Linked DNA regions of Homo sapiens. The protein of the gene in region 2 interacts with the protein of the main gene of each other region in a pairwise test. Each region holds a gene or a part of one and is shown on either strand. Other genes may lie near its edges. The genes, in order: ZNF451 and FAM118A.

The links.
Region 1: the proteins of FAM118A (region 2) and ZNF451 interact in a two-hybrid assay, tested with the Homo sapiens proteins (one large-scale study listed by BioGRID and IntAct).

What each region holds. Positions count from the first base shown.
Region 1 is NC_000006.12:57,152,446-57,156,264, reverse strand, and holds part of ZNF451 (E3 SUMO-protein ligase ZNF451), read right to left. Parts: intron 2,405-3,819; coding exon 2,218-2,404; intron 1-2,217. UniProt on the Homo sapiens protein: E3 SUMO-protein ligase; has a preference for SUMO2 and SUMO3 and facilitates UBE2I/UBC9-mediated sumoylation of target proteins. Plays a role in protein SUMO2 modification in response to stress caused by DNA damage and by proteasome inhibitors (in vitro).
Region 2 is NC_000022.11:45,312,645-45,316,463, reverse strand, and holds part of FAM118A (protein FAM118A), read right to left. Parts: intron 1-3,819.

The DNA.
Region 1 (3,819 bases), on a different chromosome or scaffold from region 2:
GGTTTTAAGTCTTCCATGAAGAAAAAATTTGGTCTTAAATCAGATAACTAAGCCTGAACATACTATGATTCAGTGTAACATTAAAAATGTAGTGGCTAGGAATCACATTTTCTTTTTATGGTAGTAATAATAAAAAATAGCTATTATTTGTTAAATAGCTAAAGTGCTTTATATACTGTGCTAGACACTTTACATACATCACTAACTATTACAACCATATAAATACAAAAAAATGAGGCTCCAAAAAAGTTAAGTAACATGCCTGAAATCGCGCTGCTAGGAAACAGCAAAGTTAGCATTTGAACCAAAGCCCATATCCTTCTTCATGCAGTGCACAATCTCTGTATGTCACAAAAACTAAGAATAAAGTACACATGTGCCTCCAGAGAGTAGTTAGTTCAAATGAGTACTGAGTATGAGTGATTAAAAAAAAAAAAAAAAAAAAAGAATACCTAGAACATAAGAGTCATTTGGAAGGGCATAATCAGCAGATATTAATAACCTGTATCTTACCTCCAACTGTAATATACCCATGCAAGTCTACTCGTATTCACCTCTCATTCCAAACAGAATATGGTTTTGCCTCTGCAAAACCATAACAGGTTTCACATTTGGAGTTATAAAAGAAATGTTCCCAAAAGCAGAAGCATAAGAGAAGGAAAGGGAGGTTGGCCTTGTGCGGCAAAGGTAAAACTTTATCTTATAGGATATTAAGTAGATGTTGAGAACTGGGAAAGCGATGGCAAAAGAGTAGAAGAGGTGTTTTGCTTTTTGTTTGAGACGAAGTTTTTGGTCTTATTGCCCAGGCTGGAGCGCAATGGTGCAATCTCAGCTCACTGCAACCTCCGCCTCCTGGGTTCAAGCGATTCTCCTGCCTCAGCCTCCCGAGTAGCTGGGATTACAGGCAACCGCCACCATGCCCAGCTAATTTTTGTATATTTAGTAGAGATGGGTTTTCACCATGTTGACCAGGCTGGTCTTGAACTTCTGACCTCAGGTGATCCACCCACCTCAGCCTCCCAAAGTGCTGGGATTACAGGTGTGAGCCACTGCACCCAGCCTGTTTTTTTTGTTTTTTTGTTTTTTGTTTTAAGAAAAAAGAAAGCCACAGATAGAAAAACAAGTGAAAACAAAAATTACAGAATAGGAAGATAATACTCAGAACTAAGGCATGACATAAAGACACAAGAGTTCATTTTCTTTTATAATCTTCCATCATTACTCCACTTTAAAGAGTATAAAGAGCACAGATTACTGATTCCTAACTTTGCAGAAGTGAATTGATCCACTGTAATCAGTGATTACAGCAAAATTCTCCAGAATGAGTTTTCAATCAAAATGTGCTTCCAAATATATTGAAAGAAAAAAAAAATCTAGGAGGCAAGCAGACTTGAAAGCTTTAAAGGCACACAATAAAAATGCCAAAAAGCCACTATTTTTCATTAAGGTAATTCATTAATATCTTCAAACCTTATTCATGAATTTAAATTATTAGGATATTTAAACATTAATTATTCTATCCATATTTCTTTACTTCAGAGATTATGAAAAAGGGGGTTATAACTCAGTGGTAGAGCATTTGACTGCAGAAATTATGAAAAACGAAAAACAAAACTTCTGAATCCTTAGAATTACATCTTTTCTTATATACTAGGAAGTGAAATTGGGTATCAGCACTCCTTTCATTGAACAATCTCACAAAGGTACAGAAGAAAGTGCAAGTCCCAGCAATAAGATAGGATGTACCCACTTCTCTAAGGACCTAAAAGCCTATCAGCGTTTTATTTTGTCACTGTCAACCTCTTAAATGATCACCTTTGTTATTGCTTTCTGGTTTTCACCTCTAAGCGCACTGCTTTCTAAAAAACTGAAGGTCAACTTGGAATTTCAGAAACAAAGTGAAGATCTGAATTCTGAGCTTTTAAAATTGTAGTAACATACTGTAACACATGAATATATGTTTTATATACATCAATATAGATTTTATCTACTAGATCAAAAAAAGCTCCAGAAAATTATTATGAATTCATCCTCCTTCTAAAACACTAAAGAATGAAAGTGAGATTTTTTTAAAAAAGATAAGTAAGATAGAAGTAAGAGAACATGATGGTTTAGCAAGCAGGCAACAGTTCACTAGCGGACAGCAGTTTATTGGTTTCTCTCAGCAGTGAAGTCTCCTCCTCTTGGGTGGTTTGCACTGTGACTGCAGCTGCGTACCTTTGGTGGTATCAGATATGCTATTTAACAAGGCACACATCATATCTCCCTCTAAGTGGTGAGGGTTTAGTATATGAGCTGGCCTCTGAGTCTTCTTAAATTGATTCTCTAGCTCCAGAAAACCTTGATCTCCTGAGAGGATGGTGAAAGGAATTTGCTTGGGTAGTTGTTCATCTAGACGGCCAGCCTAAGTTAGAACAAATGGCACAGGTTGATAAAAAATCAGCATGAGTTTCAAAACAAGTTACATCTATTTCAGAATGAACACATGCCTAGGAAGGTATATTAAGCTTGTTCCCTAGTCCCTACCAAAGTATGACATAAAGATCTCCTTCAGCTGGGTGCAGTGGCTCACGCCTGTAATCCCAACACTTTGGGAGGCTAAAGCAGGTGGATCGCTTGAGGTCAGGAGTTCGAGACCAGCCCGGCCAACATGGTGAAACGCGGTCTCTATTAAAAAATGCAAAAATTAGCTGGGTGTGGTGGCATGCGCTTGTAATCCCAACTACTCGGGATTCTCCAGGCTGAGGCTGGAGAATCACTTGAACTCGGGAGGCAGAAGTTGCAGCCAAGATCGCGCCACTGCACTCCAGCCTGGGCGACAGAGTGACACTCCGTCTCAAAAAGGAAAAAAAAAAAAAGAGAGAAAGAAAGAACTCGTTCATAAATGAAATACCCCACATTTAATCAAATATAAGATGCCATTAAATTATATAAGCTATTTAATGTGCCATGAAAAGAAAAAGCCAAAATGGAAGTCCAACAGACCTCACATAAGGTTGAAATGCCAAAGGGCTATACGCTCAATATAAGGGTAAATAAGAAATAAATCTGCCATAGAGAAAAGGTAAGCAAGGCAATTTGCATGATTCAATCTTGGCATTAGATAGACTGAAAAAGAAATCTTTTGTTGTTTAAACCATAAGCTGCAGTCAACAAGTTTGCAGAGTAAATTCACATTATCAGTGTGACATGTAAGTCCCCAAGCAGAAAATTTAAAGTGGGTCTCAGTTTGGCAGTTTCTCTAGGTACCCAGCAGAGACAGAAGCAAATGCAAATTCTGTCTAGGCCAACAGTGATTGTTAAGGTACCTCTTAATTTTAGAGATATTAAAATATGAAAGTGTCTTAATATATATCAAATACAGTATCATCAGCAGGGCGCAGTGGCTCACACCTGTAATCCCAGCACTTTGGGAGGCCTAGGCGGGCAGATCACTTGAGGCCAGGAGTTTGAGACCAGCCTGGCTAACATGGAGAAACCCCGTCTCTACTAAAAATACAAGTATTAGCTGGGCATGGTGGTATGCTCCTGTAGTCCCAGCTACTTGGGAGGCTGAGGCACAAGAACCATTTCAGCCCAGGGGGCTGAGGTTGCAGTGAGCCGAGACTGCGCCACTGCACTCCAGCCTGGGTGACAGAGCGAGACTGTCTCAAAAACAAACCCAAAAAACAGTATCAGCTCTTGATCATTTATCCCACAAATAGTTGAGGGTCTACTATGGATAGCTGAAGGTTTGCTAGAAGTTGAGGATAAAGCAATAAAAATATGCTATGGGGTCCTGCCTTCATAATAGTCATAGGTAGAACCTGAAGTACTGAA
Region 2 (3,819 bases):
CATTAATATCCTCCTCTCCCTTCATTCTAGATGTGATTCCCACAAACTTCCTTTTTCACAGCCATCAGGTTCCCACGTAGGCTTGGGAGAGGAGAAGAGTGTGGCGGCAGAAATCACTGAGCAAGGCTGGATGTGGAGGCTCACACCTGTAATCCCAGCACTTTGGGAGGCCGAGGCGGCCGGATCACCTAAAGTAAGGAGGTCGAGACCAGCCTGGCCAACATGGTGAAACCGTGTCTCTAATAAAAATACAAAAATAAGCCAGGTATGGTGGTGCGCACCTGTAATCCCAGCTACTCTGGAGGCTAAGACAGGAGAATCGCTTGAACCCGGGAGGCAGAGGTTGCAGTGAGCCGAGATCGTGCCACTGCACTCCACACTGAGTGACAGAGCAAGACTCCATCTCAAAAATCAAATCAAATCACTGAGCAACAGTCTTCAAGCACATGTGACAGTCATATTTCTAACCACAAATGAACCATCTGCGATCCAGCTGATAGGTTTCTGGTGAGTTTGATTAGCATGACTAGGGTCACCTGAACTGGAAACAAGGCACAAATGGGCAAAAAATTAAGCTTCTGGAACTGCAAAGGAGAGGCTTAGCCTTGAAACCACAACACCCCCACCTGAAGCAGCATTAGGACTAAGGTGCAGAAAACACAGGATCTGGAGACAAGGAAACACCACCCTTTCCCCAGCCAGGTAGACCTCTCTAAACCTGTTTCCCCCAGCCAGGTAGACCTCTCTAAACCTGTTTCCCCCAGCCAGGTAGACCTCTCTAAACCTATTTCCCCCAGCCAGGTAGACCTCTCTAAACCTGTTTCCCCCAGCCAGGTAGACCTCTCTAAACCTGTTTCTCCATCTCCCAAATGGGGATCCCAACATGCACATCACCGACGGGGCTGCTGCAGACATTCAAGGGAGACGCGTATCTGAAAGGCACTTAATAAAGTGTACAGTGTCTGTTACTCTCAACCGCCTCACGCTAGCACCACTCTTCCAAGGCAGTCACCACAACTACATTTCAGTGTAATCATGGTTCTGGTAAAACTTAATCTCAGCCATTACTAATAATAAGGGATCTTCAGGATGAGTTATTTTCTTCAATTTACAGAAAATATGAACCCTTAATTTGAACGCACTCCACTTAACCAATTACTTTTTATTCTGTTGAACTTAATTATAATGGGAAAAATGCCTTATTTTGTAATGATGGAAATAAGTTAATTGGATTCCTGAAACCAGTCCCACCAAACAGAGCTGCTTGGACGTATACACCCAAACCAGGAAAACAGCAAAACCCACCACTAGAAAAAGAATCTAATTCAAATTTAGTTTAATTTGGTCACAAATTAATTCAAAGAGCAACATTAATTACTGCCACTTTTTCAGCCTTTAATAGAGATTCAAGGGAAAATGCTAAGCGTTTTACACGCACTATCTCAGTTAACCTCAATAACCCGATGAGGTGGCGACTCCTATGACCCACAGCCTGGCCAAGGCCGATAGTGAACCCTTCTAACAGGCCAGCCCCAAGTTGTGTATTATATATTCTTGCGCCTTTCTTCCTAACATCAGTGCAGCTTGAAATGGCAAACAAATATACCTGATATTTTACTGGGAACTCTGCCATCCACTAAAGCATTCAGCATTTTACATACAGTTTGTCCACCAGATGTGACACATTAACTCAAATAAACGTGTTACTTAACAAGCCAATGTTAAAACACGCCAAGACAGAGGCCAGGGGCTTGTGGACCCACCTGCCTTTACCCCACCTCAAGAGGATACGTAAGACATGTTCTAGAAGGTAAACCTCCAACAAAATGTAAAATGACAGAATTTCAGAGCGGGCAGGATCTTAAAGGTTACATGAAACCAAATGCCCTAATTTTTCAGAAGTGAAAATTGAGACTAAGAGACAGTGACTTTGTCAACTTCCCCCACGGGGCTGGGAACAAGCTATAAAGTAACTCCTGGCTCATGTCCCATACCCTTCCCACCGGCCTGGGCATTGTCTGGTCCACTGTGACCCCAACACTTTAAGGCACTCATTTCTACCTCTTTACCACCAAATCATTACAAATAAGGCACAGTTTAGTTTTCTACAGTTTCTCCTTCCCCGGAAATGTTGAAAGAGTTGCCATTAGGCAGATAGAAGAGGCGGCAGGCAGAGCAGCTCCAGGAAAAAGACCAGCCCCTGCACAGTGTGCTTATCATTCAACTGTCCATGTTAGCTTGGGGGGCGGGGTGGGAACAGATAAGGAGGGCCACATGGAGGAACAATGCTACCAACTCAAGAGGACGGCATTTTCCTGACAAGGAGATGCTGCAGGCTCCTTGGGGGAAGGAGGTAGGATACAGCAGCAACAGCCTGGCCAACAAATCAGTACTGGCTGAACTCCTTACTACCTGGGCAAGGACTCATTCCTGAGCCTATTTACTTTTTCTACAAAGGAAAGAATATCTTATACCTCCTAAGGTTGCTGGAAGCATTAAATGGAATAAAAGAACAAAGCCTGGAACAGTGTGCTTCCTACTACACCCTAGATGTGTGATAGGGAATCCTTCCTAGATTTAATTAAAATTAAAGCTAAATAAAATTAAACAGCTGCGTCACATTAGTCATATTTTCAGTGTTCGGCGGCCACAAGCGGCCAGTGTGTACTGGACAACAGTCATTACATTTTGGTTACCACAGGAAGTTCCATTGTGCAGTTATCCCTGAGTCTGTCTCTCCCTCACCTAAGCCCAGACTTCAACAAACAAGTCCTGTAGATTTTTCTTCCTAAATCTGTTTAATCCATACCGTCTGCCACAGTCTTAAAGCCCTCACAACTTGGCTGGGAGTGGTGGCTCACACCTGTAATCCCAGCACTTTGGGAGGCCGAGGCGAATGGATCACCTGAGGTTGGGAGTTTAAGACCAGCCTGGCCAACATAGTGAAACCCCGTCTCTACTAAAAATACAAAAAGTAGCTGGGCAAGGTGGCAGGCGCCTGTAATCCCAGCTACTTGGGAGGCTGAGGCAGGAGAATCGCTTGAATCTGGGAGGCAGAGGTTGCAGTGAGCCGAGATCGCACCATTGCACTCCAGCCCTGGCAACAAGAGCAAAACTCCATCTCAAAAAAAAAAAAAAAAAAAACCCTCACGACATGTCTGACACTGAAAGGCACCTGCTTCCAGTTCCAGCCCCTCTAGTCCTCTAGTCCCACATAGTCACCAGAGGGAAATTTCTGACACATCTGAACTTGTCTCCCCTCCAACAGCTTTGCATTTTGTTGAAATCTCTACTTGGTCTTCATCCTGTTTCCCGTCTTACTACTCCTAGAATCCCTGGAATCTCCAAAGTGCTGTCATTTTGTATGCTAATGAGCTGATTGACGCAGATAGGCCCTGGGCAGCTTCAGAAGGGGGCTTATCACCAGAAAGACCAAGGCAGGATTAGATCCTTGGAACTTTCAGCCCCACCCACTAACCTGGGGAAGAGAGGGCTAAAGATTACGTTGATCACCAAAGGCCAATGGTTTAATTAAGCATGCCTACATGCTTAAGTCGTCTCCATAAAAGGCATAAAAGGGCTGGGTTCTGAGAGCTTCCTGAGAGATAAATACAAACATGCCGAAGTTTCTGGAGAATGGTACACCCCGGGGAGGGCACAGAAGCTCTGCACAGCATCCCCCACGCCTCACCCTACGCATCTTCTCATCTGTGTCCTTTGCGATATCTTTCATAACAAACCAGTAAACCTGAGTGTTTCCCTGAGTTCTGTGAGCTGTTCCATAGCAATTTTGAGACAGTCTTGCTCTGTCTCCCAGGC